Homo sapiens: one gene and its partner. The protein of the gene in region 2 purifies or fractionates together with the protein of the main gene of each other region. This does not show direct contact. Each region holds a gene or a part of one and is shown on either strand. Other genes may lie near its edges. The genes, in order: MARF1 and PAN3.

What was found.
Region 1: the proteins of PAN3 (region 2) and MARF1 purify together in Homo sapiens (affinity purification with mass spectrometry, with the first as the bait; one large-scale study listed by BioGRID). This does not show direct contact.

Annotation. Positions count from the first base shown.
Region 1 is NC_000016.10:15,598,080-15,601,895, forward strand, and holds part of MARF1 (meiosis regulator and mRNA stability factor 1), read right to left. Parts: intron 2,623-3,816; coding exon 2,562-2,622; intron 2,475-2,561; coding exon 2,349-2,474; intron 946-2,348; coding exon 775-945; intron 1-774.
Region 2 is NC_000013.11:28,141,481-28,145,296, reverse strand, and holds part of PAN3 (PAN2-PAN3 deadenylation complex subunit PAN3), read right to left. Parts: intron 1-3,816. UniProt on the Homo sapiens protein: Regulatory subunit of the poly(A)-nuclease (PAN) deadenylation complex, one of two cytoplasmic mRNA deadenylases involved in general and miRNA-mediated mRNA turnover.

The DNA of each region.
Region 1 (3,816 bases), on a different chromosome or scaffold from region 2:
TGAAGAGCAGGGAGGGATCTGTACAGGGCAGATGGGCCATCCTCTCCAGAGGCCAGGAGACACCGCAGGACAAGAGGGCTTGGGTTCCAATGCCGGCTCTGCCCTTGCTAGCCCAGCAGCCCGGGGCCACTGCCTCTCTAGTGACGGCACCAGCTGTGCCTTAGTCACGCAGCCTGTGGAATAAAGCAGCTGCCTTTATTCCACGGCTCTCACCTGGAGCCGTGGTAAGAGTTAAATGTGATGGTGTCTGTCAGCCCTGAGCACAGGGTCAGTGCCAATGCCTGCACTAGGCTGGGACTCAGTGTGCTCAGCTTCCTGTCTGTTATATCACTGGGCAGAGTCCGGGGCTCCAGCCACAGACACCTCCCTCCATTCACCCCTTTATAAAGCCCTTGGGCCCTCTGGACCCCCACCATGGGTGACGTGTACATCTGGTGACAGGTGTGCCTGAGAGCAGCTGAACCTTCACAAAGTCTGGGAGAGCAGAAGCCCAGGAGGCCCCACCCACCCCTGTGGACTCGCCCACAGCCCCGAGCCACCAGCCCTCCAGAGCTGCCAAATCGCCCTTGCCTGATGCTCGCCAGGCAACCTCAGGCTGTGCATCCCATTCTGCAGGAACCCAGGTGGGGAAAGAAGGTCGAATAATCAGCACAGTGTTTTCCACCTGAAAAGGGGTAGTCCCTTCCCACCTCCGTCATTTACTATATCAGTATCTCATCGTGGTTTTGTTTTAAACCCCGAAGAAAATCCCCATGACAACATGGAGTCACCCACCAGAAGGCTCTTGAGGGCGCTCCTCAAACTGAATGAGATCAGCAGATTGGAGGATAACGGGGTCTGGTCTCAGCTGAGGGGACGGCAGGCACGAGGGGACAGGCGCACACAGGAGGTCGACGGGGGAGTCGTCGGTCAGGCGGAGAAGCTCCTGCTCTGTGTGACTGGGCCCTGGGCAAACAAGGAGGGCCGTGACACCACAGGACCTCCACGCCCACCCCCAGCACACACCCTGGGCTCACACCTGAAGTTTTCCTTCTAAGCCTTAAAGATAAGAGAGTCAAGAAGTATTTAAGGTATTAAAAAAAAAAAAAAAAAAAAACAAAAACCCAAAACCCACTAACAGGAAGATCCTGGTAATGGAACGCCTTAATAAGCTAGTTCTTCTGAAGATCCGTGTTCTTAGGAACACTGGCCCCTCAAAAGACCCAACCAGAGAAAAGGGTCCTGCAGTCAGCTTCCAAAGAGAAGGGACAGCCTGAGACGGGGTGTACGTAGTTAACAGCAAGTGGAAGCTCAGAATCCGAAGCCCTGGGCCTGGTTCCGTGGCTTCCTAGCTGCTGACTCTGGGTGAGCTGTAATACGTGACTGCCTGAGATTTCCGAGCCTCCGCTGCACAACGGAGGTCAGCACTGCTGAAGGCTGTGGGGCAGCTTCGGCAGATGATTCCCAGGAGGGCGCTTCATAAAACGTCAAATGCTGTGTAACTCAGTTATCCTAAGGGCACAGGGGACGGTAACGTGCTATCTCGCCGCATGTTATGAAGACAAAATTCTCACCTATAACGATGAATTCAAAAGTCCTTCAGAAAAGTTAGAACTGCTATAACATTCCAAGAATTGGCCTCTATCTACTACAGAGGTGGATCTATCTGAAATCTATGTGACTCAGTGTAATTTTGGGTAATATTAATGCATTAGTATATCAAATCCTGCCTAGGGCTGTCCTGTGACAAAGACGCCTTGACCAGCCATGAGTCAGGCACCCTGAGCCCTCTTCCGGATCAGGCCTGACCTTGGCCTTCCATGTCTGTTGCTGAACTTGCCGGCTCGCTCTAGAGTCTTAGCTTGAGTCAGTTTAGTGAGAATCCCCTCACCCTTCACAGCTGATCGAATTCCTTATTCCCAACCACTGATGTCTAGATCCTTGGCTGGCCTGCATGCCTATAGCAAGAATCCTCTTAGTAATTTTCCACCCACTGAGCCCTCACTCTGCTCCTAGGCTATGTATTGGGAGTTGGCTCTCTCTCCCCTGTTGCAAGTGTCATGAATATCCATTATAATAAGTGTCGGAATAATTTTTTTCTTCAACATCTGAACTGGGGTAAGATGATCATTATGGGGGTGCCAACATCCTTCAGGGACTTTAACCAGTCAACCATGCAATGCTAACAGATAAAGGTCAATTTTATCCTGTTACTAACTAAATACCAAAACTGCTTTGAAAAATGTGTGGCTATGTAACTTCAGCAGATTGGATGACTTGCTGGAGTCCTTTCCCTCGCTCTCCCCGACCCCAAAGCCGTTTCTCCTAGAATTTCACAAGCTCCTATGTCTCTGCTTTTCCTCTCTTACCACTGCCGTCAGCTCCAAGCTTGAGTTCCGAGGCTGTGTGCGATTCGGGCACCTCCAGGATGCGCTCGCCCTCCGAGGGCTGGTTTTCATGATTGGCAGGGGAGAGACTGAGTGAACTCAAACGACCTACAGGACAAAGAGCACCCGTCAGAGAGAAATGTCAGTGAGAGAACCGTGATTTTTTAAGGGGGGAGGGGATGGGTGCTTACTTACTTTTCATGTCATTTTTTAACACTACAATTCTCTTATGACCATGTCCTTTTATCCAGACCACCTGCACACAAGACATACTACTGGTTAAGCAGCGGAAAAGGAGGGGACAGAAGCCCTAACATTCAGGAAGAGTGTGACCTACGGAGCCTGCCTTAGGCTAGAATTTAGGAGCTGAGTTACTGCCAAGAAGCATGTTTCTCTACTCTCTCCTTAGCTTTTAAAGCAACAGAAGCTGACAGAAACATACCCCTATAAAAAGCAGAGTAGTTCAAAAATCATGAGACACAGTTTCAGAAATATCCTTTATAATTCTTAAAAAGACTGTCTTCCAAACACCAGCTTTGGCATATAAATTAAGGTAGTTCTCACATGAGAGCTCTTTGCCATTTTTTTGCAGAAACTGAACAACCACCTAAAAGAATTAAGAGCAATCTCTCAGACCCTTTAAACTAAGTTCATTATCAGCATCTTAAAGTCCTCTCCCTGATGGTGCCGCTCTCCATCTCAGCCAAGCAGAGTGGTAGTAGTGGAGCTAGGCTCCCAGGCCCCCTACATGTGCACACCGTCGCCAGGTCACTGATCTCAGCTCCCAGGCAAGCTTTGCCTGGGTCCTTCCTACTTCCTCTATTCTACTATTTTTACTCTGGCTCAATCCCTCCATCTAACACTGACCCAGACCTCTGCAGTGGCCAGGATCCTAGCCCAGTTCCCTTCTCCATGCCTGCTTCTCTCGGCTCTACCATGGACAGCACCACTGGGGTGCTTTTCAAATGCAAACCTGGGCTCCAGCTCTCTCCAACACAGTCCTCCCTCCTTACCTGGAGGAGCCACGCCCTCCCTAACCGAGCTCTCAGCTCCCTCTTAGCCTCTCGACACTCCATGCCACTTGTCACAACCCTGCATCTGCTCATGTCATCATCCCCTTTGCCCAGAATGCTCTCTCCCCTCCTTGTCACGTGCTTCCCTCAGGCACATCCTTGAAGGTTTTGCAACAGGCTCCCCAGGCTTGGGAAGTGGGCCCTGACACGGCCCTCCTCAGCGCGCCCACTGCCCTGACCGCCCTGACTAGTTGCCTGCTTGGGGGTCTTGACTCTCCCATTAACCAACACCTTTCTAGAGTTACAGCCTGAAACTTACTCACCTGGCATATAGGGATTTAATAAAGGTTTACAGAAAGAATCAAGGAGAAATGCTAAAATCATTTACTTTAGACCAACAGTATGTTTTGAAAGGATCAATTCAAAATGCCTGCCGT
Region 2 (3,816 bases):
AGTTAGGCACGATCTGTAATATGTACACACATACACACACACACGCAAGTGCAAATAAGACCGTGGAAATGTAAACAAGTAGACTACAGCAATCAATACTGGCCATGATACTGTACTACAGCTACAAAAGATGTTACTATCCTTTATAAAAGAAGAGTACATGAGATATCCGTATTGTATCTTACAATTTCGGGTGATTCTATAATTATCTCAAAATAAAAAGTTCATTTAAAATTGGGGGAAAAATTCCTCAAAATGGCATATAAAAGGATGATATTGGGCCAGGCGCGGTGGCTCACGCCTGTAGTCCCAGCGCTTTCGGAGGCTGAGGCAGGTGGATCACGAGGTCAGGAGTTCAAGACCAGCCTGGCCAAGATGGTGAAACCCCATCTCTACTAAAAATACGAGAATTAGCCAGTCGCGGTGGCAGGCTCCTGTAATCCCAGCTACTTGGGAGCTGAGGCAGGAGAACCGCTTGAACCTGGGCAGCAGAGGTTGCAGTGAGCCAAGATGGCGCCAGTGCACTCCATCCTGGGCTACAGAGTGAGGCTCTGAGGAAAAAAAAAAAAAAAAAAAAAGATGATGTTTTGGTTTGCTTTTGATAATCATTTATCTTCTTAAAGGGTCATTTCAAATGCACTTTCAGTCTATGATCATACCACTCTGAACACGCCCGATCTCATCAAATGCACTTTTACAGGAAAAAGTGCTTTATTTGTTAACTCAATCTCACCTGGAGTTACGTTATCCCTCGAGTTTTCCTCATAAAACTTATCGAAACCGGCCGGGCCCAGTGGCTCACGCCTGTAATCCCAGCACTTTGGGAGGCCGAGGCAGGTGGATCATGAGGTCAGGAGATTGAGACCATCCTGGCTAACACGGTGAAACCCCGTCTCTACTAAAAATACAAAAAAATTATCTGGGCGTGGTGGCGGGCGCCTGTAGTCCCAGCTACTCAGGAGGCTGAGGCAGGAATGGCGTGAACCCAGGAGGCGGAGCTCGCAGTGAGCCGAGACTGCGCCACTGCACTCCAGCCTGGGAGACAGAGCGAGACTCCATATCAAAAAAAAAAAAAAAAAAAAAAACAAAAAAACTTATCGAAACCAAGTATTACCTTATAGATATTTATAGCCCCACTAGAATGTAAACTCCATTAGGGCTGAATTATGTTTTTTTGTTGCTGTTGTTGTTCCTATCACCTTAATCAGAGCTTACCACCTTGGAAGCAGGATATTAAATGAGTGAAATGAACAGTATTATAAAGCCTTCATGATATACTAAGTATATTATTCCAATAAAAATGTTTAAACTTATGCCAGCTATCCTAACAGCAAATCGCCAGTACTCACTTCTCTGTCACTTAGTATAGGTTTGTGGGATGAAAAGGCTAGTCTTGGCTTAAACAAAAACAGCTTTGCCACACGCTACACATTACATATTCCAAAGCTAACATTTGAACTTCAAGTTATCCATGGCACTGCTCTCCTCCATTTGGACAATCACAATTCAATAATCTGTAGCTATTTTACTAGTCTTCAATGTATGCCCTCAAAAATTTGAAGAAGGAAATACAGAGGTTAACTATAGATTATTAATATTTAATAATAGCAATAACTAAGACTGAAACCTCAATATGTGCAGGCAATGCCATGCAATTTTCATAACATCTCCATTTTCCAGATGAGAAAAACTGAGGCTTAAAGGTTAAAAATTCGTTCAGTCACAAAGCTAGTCAAAGAGCCAGGATTCTATCTGAAACATGTCTTATTCACTAGTAACTACATTAGGAGAATTGAAAAGTGTATTTTGGTAAATTAAAACTACTGGGTTTCAAATAATGTACATAAAATACAAATATTGGCATATTTTACCTGTTAAAAATTGTACACTTTGAAGATTAAAGCCATTTTGAAAATCTAGCCAGTTGAAAATATTAGAATTACATCATTAAATGTCAAGAATCGATAATGCAGTTGAATACAAATCAAATCACTCTTAAGCCTTAGAAAAATCCCAAGACTAACAGAAATACGAAATGTTACGTAAGCTACATGGTACGGCATACCTGTAGTCCCAGCTACTCAGGAGGCTGAGGTGCTAGGATCACTTGAGCCCAGGAGTTGGAGTCCAACCTAGACAACACAGCAAGAACTCCCAACCCCCTCCTCAAAAAAAACAAAAACAAAAACAAAAACAAAAAATCAAATTGCAGTTTCCTTATAAGGTTGAAACATCATTGCAACTAAGTGTATTAAGAAAAAGCCTTTGTGCTTCAGTTTTCCAATGGCTGCAAAATAAAGATAAAGTTTTCTCATGCACCCACCTCCAAGGTTTTAACACTATCTGAAACACCAACAAAACAAAAACAATTCTGCAAATGTGAAGTGCTAAAGTTAGAGTCAAAACCTCAAATGCCTAGATATAAAAGTCATCCAGTTAGGGAATGAGTCAAAATGGAGAGAATTATGCTCTATCAACAGCTCTAATTCCAACACAGGTAAGAGACATCCTTAAAGGGAAACCAGAAATTTGTACTTCTATATTAAATCTTTTGTTTCTTTTGTTGTCAAATGATTCAATCAAAACCCACAAACATAGAAATTAAAAACACTAAATTATGGTATATATGGTGGCTCACAGGGTAGGCAGATCGCTTTGAGCCCAGAAGTTTGAGACCGGCCTGGGCAACATGGGGAAACCTCATCTCTACCAAAAATACAAAATAATTAGAGGTGCTTGGTAGCCAGTGCCTGTGGTCCCTGTCTCAAAAAAAAAAAAAAAAAAATTGCCATCTATTTTAACTGCCTCACACACATAATTAACCAATGAAGGCCAGATGTGGTAGCTCACACCTATAATCCCAGTACTTTGAGAAGTCAAGGCAGGAGATTGCTAGAGCCCAGGAGTTCGAAACCAGCCTGGACAACACAGCAAGACATCATCTCTTCAAAATAAAATAAACGGATCAATACTGTCTCAAAACACACTGAATGAGAATACAGTAAAAGGTAGAAAGCAGTCTAAAAAATGAACAATAAGTGTAAAAACTCAAAAAAGCCATACAATTACCAACACAACCTTTTTTCCTGATTCCTGAGCAACATTATTTCCCACTCCTTGGTATCTCTCAGTAATACCTAGGTTGTGATTCCTTATGAAGAAATCTCCATCCATAAGGAATTACTGAGAGATACCAAGAAGCCTATCACAGAAAAGAGGAGCCTTAGGCTTCAGCCAGACAAGCTAAAGCAAACACCACAGAATCTAAATACATAAATCAACTATTTAATCAGACAACTTTTACTAACAAGTGACAAAGTATTAATTTTAAAATACCTTTTCAGCATTAACTGCCTGTCCTCTCGAGTCCCTATATCTCAGTTATTTTCCTAAGATGTCCCACCTTTGAGCCACTGCTAATATTTTTTCCTCCACCTTAAGGGTACTTACCTTCCCCTCCCATCTTCATCTGCTTACATCCTGTCCTCTTTCAAGTCTCAGCCCTTCTACCTATTGTGTGTTAATTAGAAAATCCTCGGCCAGGTGCGGTGGCTCCCGCCAGTAATCCCTAGGAGGCCGAGGCAGGCGGATCACCTGAGATCAGGAGTTTGAGACCAGCCTGACCAACATGGAGAAACCCCGTGTCTACTAAAACTACAATATTAGCTGAGCGTGGTGGTGCCTGCCTGTAATCCCAGCTACTAGGGAGTCTGAGGCAGGAGAATCTCTTGAACCCGGGAGGCAGAGGTTGCGGTGAGCCGAGATCACTAGATTGCACTCCAGCCTCGTAAACAAGAGTGAAACTCCGTCTCAAAA